3 linked regions of the Homo sapiens genome follow. The protein of the gene in region 3 purifies or fractionates together with the protein of the main gene of each other region. This does not show direct contact. Each region holds a gene or a part of one and is shown on either strand. Other genes may lie near its edges.

Region 1 (3,658 bases), on a different chromosome or scaffold from region 3:
ATGGGTAATGAGCTGGAACTGTAGAAATAAATGAGATTGCATAGGATAAAGTAAAAGTAACAGAAGAGAGAGCCAAGTATAAAGTTCCACCAACATGTTAATGGTGGGCAGAGGAAGAAGACTGATAGAAATGGATTTTTCATTATAAAAGCTTATTTTATGAGGTTTTGTTTTGTTTTTTAAATAAAGCAGTCTAAGGATTTGCCTTCTCAAACAGGGATTGCTTAATAGGAATAACAAGGTAGTGGTGAGGGTAGAATTGGAAAAGTGCTGCTCCATAAGATTGACATTTGAAGCACAGGTGTATCTGGCACTATGATGGAGTTGATAGTTGCCATGGGTATACCTCAGGAACACAGCAGCTGTCCAGTATGTATGCCTTAGATCTACCACATGTGTAGAGTGAGTTTTTTTCTCTGTATTTACTCCATTGTCAAATTTAGAAACAGACAGATACATGTGACTCCAACAACAGTAAGTATATTATTCTAGTAACCAAAAAAAACTTTTTCCTAGGGCCTGTCTTATAGACTGAAGGCTGAAATTATTCATAAACTGTAACAAAGAATTTGGTCAATGTCTGCAACCTAAAAATTTGATGTTTTATGATTTTAAAATAAATTGTAAATATTTGGTCTTTTGTTTCAGATATTTTCCAAGTATGGCAAAGTTGTAAAGTAAGTATTCACATTAAATTTTGTAACTTCATTTAAAAGTTTATCTGAATTTGCTTCTACATTTTTTTAATGACAGATTTTTAAAAATAAAACATGCTTGATATAATAAAGAAAATACTATTAACATTTTTATGACAATTTAGTTGGTTTTCCATGTACATAAACATGTAGACAATTTTTCTTAAAGACTATTACATACATACAATTTTCTTTTCTTTTTTAATTTGACATACCATAAATGTCTTTCCATGTGCTATAAAGATACATCCTCATAGCTAATGGTAAACAAATATTTTGGTTACTAGGAAGTGTGTTATCAAGTATACTATAAGTAACCTACTTTCAAATAAATAGGTGGTTTTTTGTTTTGTTTTTTTTCATATAAATAGTGTAAAAACAAATATTTCAGTGCATCTGACTTGCAGGATGCTATGAGTCTTTTAAATAGAAAACATATTATCTTCCTTCAGAGATAGCTTGGAGATCGTTGGAAAGACTAGAAACATGCAAAAATGGTAATGGATGATAACAGGGCTGAGGGTTAGGAACAATAAAAAGAACTTGAACTTCTCGTATTTCACTGTTTTAAATCAAGCAACTATATTATGGGGCAAAAAAGTAACAGGATACTGTCATCCTAACTTTCTTGTAACCAATATAGATTCTGATATAAATTTAAAATCCCAAGAATTTTGAGCATATTTATCTTGGCTAATTTCTTCTAGTGTTCCATAAATGGATATTAAACAGTTGAAGCTCTTTTGCATCTTGAAATTACTAACTTCTTTTACAGTTACTTTGCTATTAAAAAAGCATTATCAAAAATGCTTCTGTGTAAATTTTTGGGTGTTCAGATTTTAAAAAGTCATTGTCATCAGTCCAAACACTGGTAATGATGATGGTATGTGATACTTAAATGAGCACATATATATGCCAGGCATTGTTCTAATCTCTTTATGTGTATTATTTAATTCTCACAACTACCCTTTAAGGTAGGTACTATTATCATCTCAGTATTATACATGATGAAACTGAAGCACACAGTAAACCTAAGGTCATCTTGCTAGCTAGTGGTGGAGAAAATATTTGAATCCAACAGTGAGATTTCAGAGCCCACTCCCTTTTACCTTTTTTCTTTTTCCACTTTGTTAGAATCTCTGAATGGATCTCCATATAAATATATAGTCCTAAACCATGAAACTGCAATGGAGTTAAAGACACGAGAGTTATAAGCACCTAGAAACAGGGAAGACTATCTAGTCTAGAGAGCCAGGGAAGGCTTACCTAGGTCAGTATTTTTTGAGTGGAAACCTAAAGGATGAGTAAGAGTTAAGTAGGCAAAAATAAGGGAGGAATATTTCAGGTAGAGGGAATAGCTTGTGCAAAGGCCCTGTGGCAAGAGAAAATAAAGTGAGATCAAGAAATAGAAAGAAGGCCAATGTGACTGGAGATGAGTGAGTAAGGGGGAGAAAGCACAAGGTGGCTCCAGAGATGGAAGCAGGTTCCTCATCTTACTTCTTGGTCAGGTTACCAAGGTATTTGGTTTTCATTCTAAGAATATCAGGAATCATTTAAGAATTTTAAGTGAGGGGTGACATGATTTAAATTTTTTAAAGTTTATTCTGGCTTAATGTAGAAATTAGATTGGAGGGGAACAAAAGCAAATGCAGCTGGGTGCAGTGGCACACACCTGTAATCCCAGCACTTTGGGAAGCCGATGTGGGAGGATCACTTGAAAGGTCATGAGTTCAAGACCAGCCTGGCCAACATGGAGAAACCCCATCTCTACAAAAAATACAAAAAGTAGCCGGCCCTGGTGGTACACACCTGTAATCCCAGCTGCTTGGGAGGCGAGGCATGAGAATTACTTGAACCCAGGAGGCGGATGGAGGTGGAGGTTGCAGTGAACCAAGATCACACCACTGCACTGCAGCCTGGACAGAGCAAGACCCCATCGCAAAAAAAAGAAAAAAGCAAATGCAGTGAGACCAGTCTGAATCTAAAACTGTAGCCCAGGGGAGAAATGTGTACTAAAATAGTACAGGTGGAGATATAGAGACTGGTCAGATTTGAGAGGTGGTCAGATTTCAGAGATCATTATGAAATAAAGTGGGTAATAGTGATGTGTATAGGAAGCAAAGTGGGTACTATTTAGTGATATGCTTACTTTGCGTATAAGGACTTTGTGAACAAGAAGGAGGTGTTATGGATGACATTCAGGTTTCCCAAAATAGTGTATGCTTCATATTATGTGCTTAAATAAGTACATCATATACCTTATATTAGGAAATGGTGCTATTATCTACCTCTTTTCCCTTGCCAGAAACATGGGAGTCACAGTAGATTTGTCCTTTTAAATCTCTGATGTAATTTTTTTTTTCTGTTACCACAGAAGGTATCTCTATCAAAGTATTGTATGATAGTTGGTTTGTTGGTCTGTCTCTACCACTAAACTGTAAGATTTCTCCTGAGGGTAAAAACTACTGTTAGTGCTTAGCACATGGGCTTGAGGCTAACAGAGTGACTGAGTGACCGAATGAATGAACACACACAATGTACTCTTTTAGAAACTACTTTTCCCATTTTTTTGGTCTGTCTTTCCCATTGAATATAAAGGTATATCTATCAATCAACATATTGAGCTGGGCACATATGGATTACAGAGACAGCCTTAAAGGAGTTTACATTAAAATAGATGAGATGAGGCATTGTTTATGAATAACACAATTCAGCAGAGACTAGCATAACGGAGGAGAAATTATATCCAGTTGAAGCTATTAGAAACTGACACATTGACCTGAACCCCGAAAGAATGAGGAAAATTTTAATGAGCAGTGATTCAGAGGTGGAAGAAGATAGAAGCTGTATGAACAAAGGCACAAATTTGGGGAAATACAGGCCATGCTACTGGAGCATTGAGTGGTTTCTTTTGGGTAGACTTCATAGTGTGTGCGTGGGAAGGAGCAGTGAAAGATGAAGGA
Region 2 (3,658 bases), on a different chromosome or scaffold from region 3:
ACACATCATTTTGGGAGGCTGAGACAGAAGAATCGCTCGAACCCGGGAGGCGGAGGTTGAGGTCAGCAGAGATCACACTACTGCACTCCAGCCTGGGCAATAAGAGCGAAACTCCGTCTCAAAAAAAACAAAAACAAAAACAAACAAAAACCCTAAATCATCTCACGTTTCATGATATATAAGAATGAATGAAGGGGTTGTATTAATAATTTTATACAAAATAAGGTCCCTTTCCCCTTGGAATAGTCTAGACAGAATATTCAAAAGCTCCTTTCATTTTATAGAAACACATAAAATACTGTATTAAGGTGTTACAGTAAATATGGAATTGCCATTAGTTCTATTAATCAATTCTAGTATTCTATCTTCAAAGACTAATGAGTATCAACTAAATCCCAGTAAGAATGTTTCATGTACACAACATTAATTCAACATTTTAAGTAATAATTTAAGAATGCAATGTATTCCTAAATGCATAATATAAAACTAATAGCTTTCCTTTCTAGGGTTCAAGTGGCCTCCTTGTAGCTATTTTAAGGCAAGAATACTGTTTGTCTCACTTTAGGGATTACTATGACAATACTTCAAACACCTTCATTTATGTGATTTTAGTTTCATTATCAGTATTCATATAAACATTTAATGCCTTCAATCAAGTAGCATCTACTGTACTTCAAACAAAAGTGCCAAACAACTTGAGGTTGACTGGGTCCTTACATAAAAAGCTGTTTGGCCAGTTGTGGTGACTTATGCCTGTAATCCCAGCACTTTGGGAGGCCGAGGTGGGTGGACTGCTTGAGCTCAGCTTCAGCTCAGAAGTTCAAGACCAGCCTGGGCAACATAGTAAAACCCCGTCTCTACCAAAAATACAAAAAACTAGCCAGGCGTGGTGGTGTGCACTTACCGTCCCAGCTACTGGGGATCACTTGAGCCTGGGAGGCGGAGGTTGCAATGAGCTGAGATTGCTCTACTGCACTCCAGCCTGGGCGACAGAGTGAGACCCTGTCTCAAAAAAAAAAAAAATTAAAAAAAATGCTGGGAATAAAGGCAAGAGGGAAGAAAACCCCAATTAAAACAATATGGAAAGTACAATGATATAAACAATAAAATGGCAAGTTTATAAGAAAAAAATTTAGTTCAATAAAATAAAAAGGAAGTATTCCACTTTGTTTTAGGTACTTTAACCAATATTAATAATGCAAAGATGACTAAGATTCAGTTCTACCTTCACTGACTTGTATTAACTTCAAGCACTGAAAGTATTTAGTGATACATGTTCATGTACACATAGTGACCTATTTTCTTTTCTTATACTGTTGGTTGGTGACAGTAGTCAGATCTTCTACAATATCCTTGCTGATTTTTGTCTACTTGTTCTACCACTTACTGAGATAGGCACGTTGAAGTCTCAAACAATAATGGCTTGAGACCTTGGATAAGTTGTTTGTAACTCCATAGACTTGTTTATCTGTTCGGTGGAATTAAGAATGGATTAAATGAGATGACACATGTAGTTTTTGCACAGTGCCTGACACAAGTTTGTTGTTATTAAAAGACAAGTGAACTGATTTTTATAGGGAGTTAAAAACATTTAAAGAAACTCCTAAAGATAAAACATATCATAAACTTTGCAAAATTGAGAAGATTTTGCAAAGTCAATCTAACTGGTAATATGAAATCTGGTTTACTTTTACCTCATTTTAGGGACTCTCTTTGGACAAAAATCAGAATATAAGAAATGTGACAGACCACCTAGTTAAATCTCATTTTAGACATGAGGAAAACCGAAGCCTAAAATTGTCCAGTTATAAACTAGTGACCCCTAAACCAATGTTCTCTCAAGCTGCCTTATTTTCCTAAATCCCAATAAGAATATTTCTAGTGTATTTTTAGGAGTGGAGAAGAATTCCCTGCATGTACAAGGTATTTTAAAAAACAGAAGTTAAATTAAATCTAAAACCCCTCTTTTTTCACTTATTTTAGACAAGACAATAAAAAATATTTAATGAAAAGTTTTATTATTTGGCCTTTCAGTAAACCTGAAAGAAAAAACCAGAAGAGGGTGTAAATTAGAGATGAAAGGCAGAAGTTTTCCTAACTGGGGAGCTTGAAATTATGTTCATGCTCTTTGGAGAATGTTAACAGAAACCTTAGAATTATCTGTCTGGGTACCATACAATGGAATTAGATTCATTTGTAAATGATTCTCTTCCAGACTTGCTTAGTTCTTTGCCAGGAAATACATTTCCAAAGCTCTGATTTTAAATAAATTTTAAGACATATTATAAATTTAAAAAATATAACTTACATAATTTATTGGTATAGCCTACGAAAAACTTACTAAAATGACATTTTTTGGCTTTAACTAGCATTTGTTCAGAGTATAAAAGAAATTTAGCAGTAAAAATTTACCTTATCTGATATATAATTTATCATCTCTGTACTTTCAATTGTACTGTCAATTTCTACTAATGCTATCTTCTCAGACTTGATCCTCACAACAAATGAGGGAGAGGGGAGAGAGAAACCTGGAAGAACAAGTAGATGAAGTAGGTTTTTTCCAGAAGAGAAAACAGGCTCAGAGAGGTTAAGTGATTTATCCAAGGTCACAGGCAGCAAGTGCAAAACACAAGGTTTCTAACTCCAAGTCCAATGTCCTTTCCTGCATTATACTAAATGGCACTGGTAGAAAGGCAGAAGAGAAGGCAAAGGGAAAGGGAGGCACAGAGAAGGGAAATAATAATAAAAAGGTCAGCCCCAAATGCAAATATATACTTTTACATTGGTAACCATTTTGGGAGATCTTTTCTAGTTGTTTGAAGCCATTCCCTCCCCACTTCCCCTTCAATCATGTTCAAGACCAAATTACTTATGCTTACCTTCAACTACATCTGCAGTTTTCATTAAAGGATTTTCTTTTATTATTTTAAGGCTTAGTCTTATTATTCCATGATAGACTTTACTTGTGACCAAACCAGGCTTCTCTGCATGCAATGAGGAATTGTAGTCCGTACTTACCGGACAAGGGCAACAAACACTTGAAGTGTCCTTACATCTCAAACACTGGCATGGAAGAGGTCCTATAGTTAGTGTAACTTAAAATTCTCAAAGTCAGTTATAGAATAAAGACTTGAACTACTCAAACAGTATTAGACTATGCATACATTCAATTTAGTATATCTGGGTTTGGTAATCCTAACATTAGAAAATTATTTTCAAGGCTTAAATATCAGATTTAATCTTTGTAAGTCTCTATATAGTAACTAATGGTAGCATGGGGAAAATGTTAAAAGTAAATCCACAAATTATGGCATATAAGCTACTTGGGAAGCATTAAGAATGCAGTTTAATAAAAAAGGTATCACTTAAGGATCACCTGAATATCAATGGAGATTTAAACATAACTATCCATGATCTACTTGGAGCTTCTTAAAAAGCTTTTTTTATTTTTAAGTGCAAATACACTCCTTTAGTATCTTATGAACATTATCTACTTTCTCATCTTGAGTTTGGTTACAAATTCTACATGGCAGGAATGACACTGTTTAGAATTCTATAACAATCCTATAAATTATAAAATAGTACTGTAGTAGTCATCATGGCTCTCCTTGTGGGCACATAGTTGTCATATACTTTCTCAGCCTTTTGAAGTTAGGTG
Region 3 (3,658 bases):
AATGTATTGAGGTTTCTTTTATCACCTAGTATGGTCTATATCCTGGAAAATGTTTCATGTGTACTTCAGAAGTATGTATAGTTCGTTGTTGGGTGGAGTGTTCTATAGACACCTATTAGGTCTAGTTGGTTAGAGTGTTGTTCAAGTCTTTTATTTCCTTGTTGATCCTCTGTCTAGTTGTTCTACCATTAAAAGTGAGGTACTGTAGTCTCCTACTATTATTATTGAATTGTCTAATTCTCCCTTCATTTCTGTCAGTTGTTGCTTTGTGTATTTTGGTGCCTTATTATTAGGTACATATGTGTTTTTAATTGTTATCATTTCCTGGCAGATTAACCCTTTTATCATTAAGAAATATCCCTATCTCTAGTAATATTTTTTGCTTTAAAGTCTGTTTTGTAAGCTATTAACATAGCCACTCCACCTTTCTTGTAGTTGCTGTTTGCAAGATCATCTTTTTCCATCCTTTTACTTTTCATTTATTGTGTCTTTGAATTTAAAGTGCCTCTCCTGCAGACAGAATATATTTGGATCCTGTTTGTTAATCAAGTCTGACAATCTCTGTCTTTTGATTGGACTGCTTTATTCTCTCACATTTATTTTTATTGTCTATATACTGAGAATTACATCTAACTCTATTCTACTTTTGGATGTCTGTATTTCTCAATGTCTATTTTTTCTTCTGTTCTTACTTTATGCTTTCATTTGCATTTAGTCATTAAGTGAATATTTTCTAATGTAGTATTTTTGTGATTGCTTTGGGGTTTATGAACAACTTCAGATTTATATTAGCTTAATTCCAGCAATATTGCTATGGTTTGAATGTTTACCCCCAAAGTTCATGTATTAGACATTTAATTTCCAATGCAACAGTGTTAGGAGATGGGGCCTAATAACAGGTAATTCGATCATGAGGGCAGAGCCCTTATTAATGGTTTAATGTCACTAGCATGGGAGTGGGTTAGTTATAGCAAGAATGAGTTATTAGGCCGGGCGCGGTGGCTCACGCCTGTAATCCCAGCACTTTGGGAGGCCGAGGCAGGCGGATCACAAGGTCAAGAGATCGAGACCATCCTGGCTAACATGGTGAAACCCTGTCTCTACTAAAAATACAAAAAAACAAAAACTTAGCCGGCGGCGGTCACCTGTAGTCCCGGCTACTCCAGAGGCTGAGGTGGAAGAATGGCATGAACCAGGGAGGCAGACCTTGCAGTAAGCTGAGACCACGCTACTGCACTCCAGCTGGGGCAACAGAGTGAGACTGTCTCAAAAAAAAAAAAAAAAGAATGAGTTATTATAAAATAAGTCTGGCAGCTGGTACCTCTCTCTGTATCGTGCCCACTTCTGCCTTCCATCTTCCACCATGAGATGACACTACGCAGATGCCAGCATCATGCTCTTGGACTTCCCAGCCTCCATTACCATGAGACAAATAAACTTCTGTTGTTTATAAATTACCTAGTCTGTGGCATTCTGTTATAGCAGAAAACAGACTAAGACAGATACATAGAAGTATTACTTTTATATAGCTCTATTCCTTTCCTCCTTTTTATAGTATTGTTATACATATTATATCTATTAATGTTATATACCCAACTATACTTGTTACAAGTATTACTTTACTGTCTGTAGTCATTTTCTCAGCACAGCACAATTACGCTCCCACCAATCTTCTTTGTGCTGTTATTGGCAAATATATTACATACATATTACCTTCTTGTAGGTGACATGCCCAACATTATATCATATACATATTATTTTATATAACTGCTTTTTAAATCATTTCAGAGAAAAGAAGAGACAATACTTTTGTACTGGTTTTCAAATAAATAAATGTCCAATATAAATGTGGATTTTTAAAAATAATTACTCAATTACCTTTACTAGTACTCTTTGTTTTTTCATGTAGATTTAAATTACCATCCAGGGATACTTGCCTCAACTTGAAGAACTGTTAGTATTTCTTGTGAGGCGGGTCTATTGACAACAAATTCTCTCAGTTTTGTTTGTCTGAGAAAGTTTTCATTTTACCTTCATTTTTGAAAGATAGCTTTTCTGGATTTTTGGTTAACTATTTTTTGTTGTTTTTTTTTTGTTTTTTGTTTTTTGTTTTTTTGAGATGGAGTCTCACTCTGTCACCCAGGCTGGAGTGCAGTGGCGCAATCTCGGCTCACTGCATCTTCTGTCTCCCATGTTCAAGTGATTCTCCTGCCTCAGCCTCCGAAGCAGCTGGGACTACAGGTGTGTGCCACCACACCCAGCTAATTTTTTGTATTTTTAGTAGAGACAGGGTTTCACTGTGTTAGCCAAGATGGTCTCGATCTCCTGACCTCGTGATCTGCCCGCCTTGGCCTCCCATAGTGCTGGAATTACAGGCATGAGCCACCACGCCCAGCCCTATTTTTTTCTTTGAGTATTTTAAATATATATGTCATTACCTTCTGCCCTCCATTGTTTCTGTGAAGAAATCAGTCATTAATTTTATTGGGGTTCCCCCCTGTAAGTGATAAGTTGTTTTTCTCTTACTCCTTTCATGATTTTCTCTTTGTCTTTTGACCTTCAACATTTTTATTGCAACATGTCTATTTTGTGCATCTCTGTGTTTATTTTCTAATAGTTGGAGGCCATTGAGCTTCCTGCATGTAGAGGTTATTGATTTTTAATGAATCAGAGAAGTTTTCTACCATTATTTCTTTGAATATTTTTTCTGCTCTTTTCTTTCTTTCCTTTCCTTCTGGTATTCTCATTATATGTATATGGTACCCTTGATGGTGTCCCACATTTTTCCAAGGCTCTGTTCACTTTTCTTCATTTATCGTTCTCTCTGTTTTCAGCTTGCATAATCAATGTCAGTCTGTCTTCAAGTTCATCAGTTCTTTCTCTTGCTAGTTCATGTTTATGGTTGAGCTTCTCTAGTGAATTTTTAATTTCAATTAGTATACTTTTCAACTCCAGAATTCCCATTTGGTTCTTTTTATATATATAATTTTTTATCTCTTTATTGATGTTCTCAATTTGATATGACATTGTCATCATACCTTCCTTTACTGCTTTAATTGTGCATTCCTTTATTTCTGTGAACATACTTATAATGACTATTTTGAACTCCTTTTCTGTTAAATCTGACATCTGTTCTCACTCATAGGCAGTTTGTGCTTTTTCTCTCCAGTGTATGGGTTATACTTAAGTGTTTCTTTGCATGCCTTGTGACTTTTTTGTTGTTAACTGAACATTTTGGATAACATACTGTAACAACTCTGGGTACTGATTCTCCCCTTTCAGGGGCTTCTTATTGTTATTTGCTGGTTTAATTTTTAGTGACTGGCTAGAATATTTTAGTGAAGTCTATTTCCCTCCTACGATTTTAAGCCTCTGTTGTTGCTCCTCTGGGAGGTACAGCTTTAGGTATGCCCATGGTTGATTGCTGAATTGTTTTCAACAATGCTCTGGAGAGTAAATTCCTTTACAAACTAATCCAACCAAAGTATGGCTTCTTTGAAGCAATAGTTTCTGAGATCCCAGTTTAATACTCATTCTAATCCCAAAAAGGAACTTCCTAGTGATCTTATTCCTTGGTTTGCTTCCTGCAAACTAGTTGGCCAACAGTCTAAACTACATCTTCATTTAATCCTGTAATCTCCCTTTCCCCACAACCTCA

What was found.
Region 1: the proteins of DHX57 (region 3) and ZCRB1 purify together in Homo sapiens (co-immunoprecipitation; one large-scale study listed by IntAct). This does not show direct contact.
Region 2: the proteins of DHX57 (region 3) and MEX3C purify together in Homo sapiens (pull-down; one large-scale study listed by IntAct). This does not show direct contact.

What each region holds. Positions count from the first base shown.
Region 1 is NC_000012.12:42,319,437-42,323,094, reverse strand, and holds part of ZCRB1 (zinc finger CCHC-type and RNA-binding motif-containing protein 1), read left to right. Parts: intron 1-648; coding exon 649-677; intron 678-3,658.
Region 2 is NC_000018.10:51,187,589-51,191,246, forward strand, and holds part of MEX3C (RNA-binding E3 ubiquitin-protein ligase MEX3C), read right to left. Parts: intron 1-3,658. UniProt on the Homo sapiens protein: E3 ubiquitin ligase responsible for the post-transcriptional regulation of common HLA-A allotypes. Binds to the 3' UTR of HLA-A2 mRNA, and regulates its levels by promoting mRNA decay.
Region 3 is NC_000002.12:38,869,337-38,872,994, reverse strand, and holds part of DHX57 (putative ATP-dependent RNA helicase DHX57), read left to right. Parts: intron 1-3,658. UniProt on the Homo sapiens protein: Probable ATP-binding RNA helicase.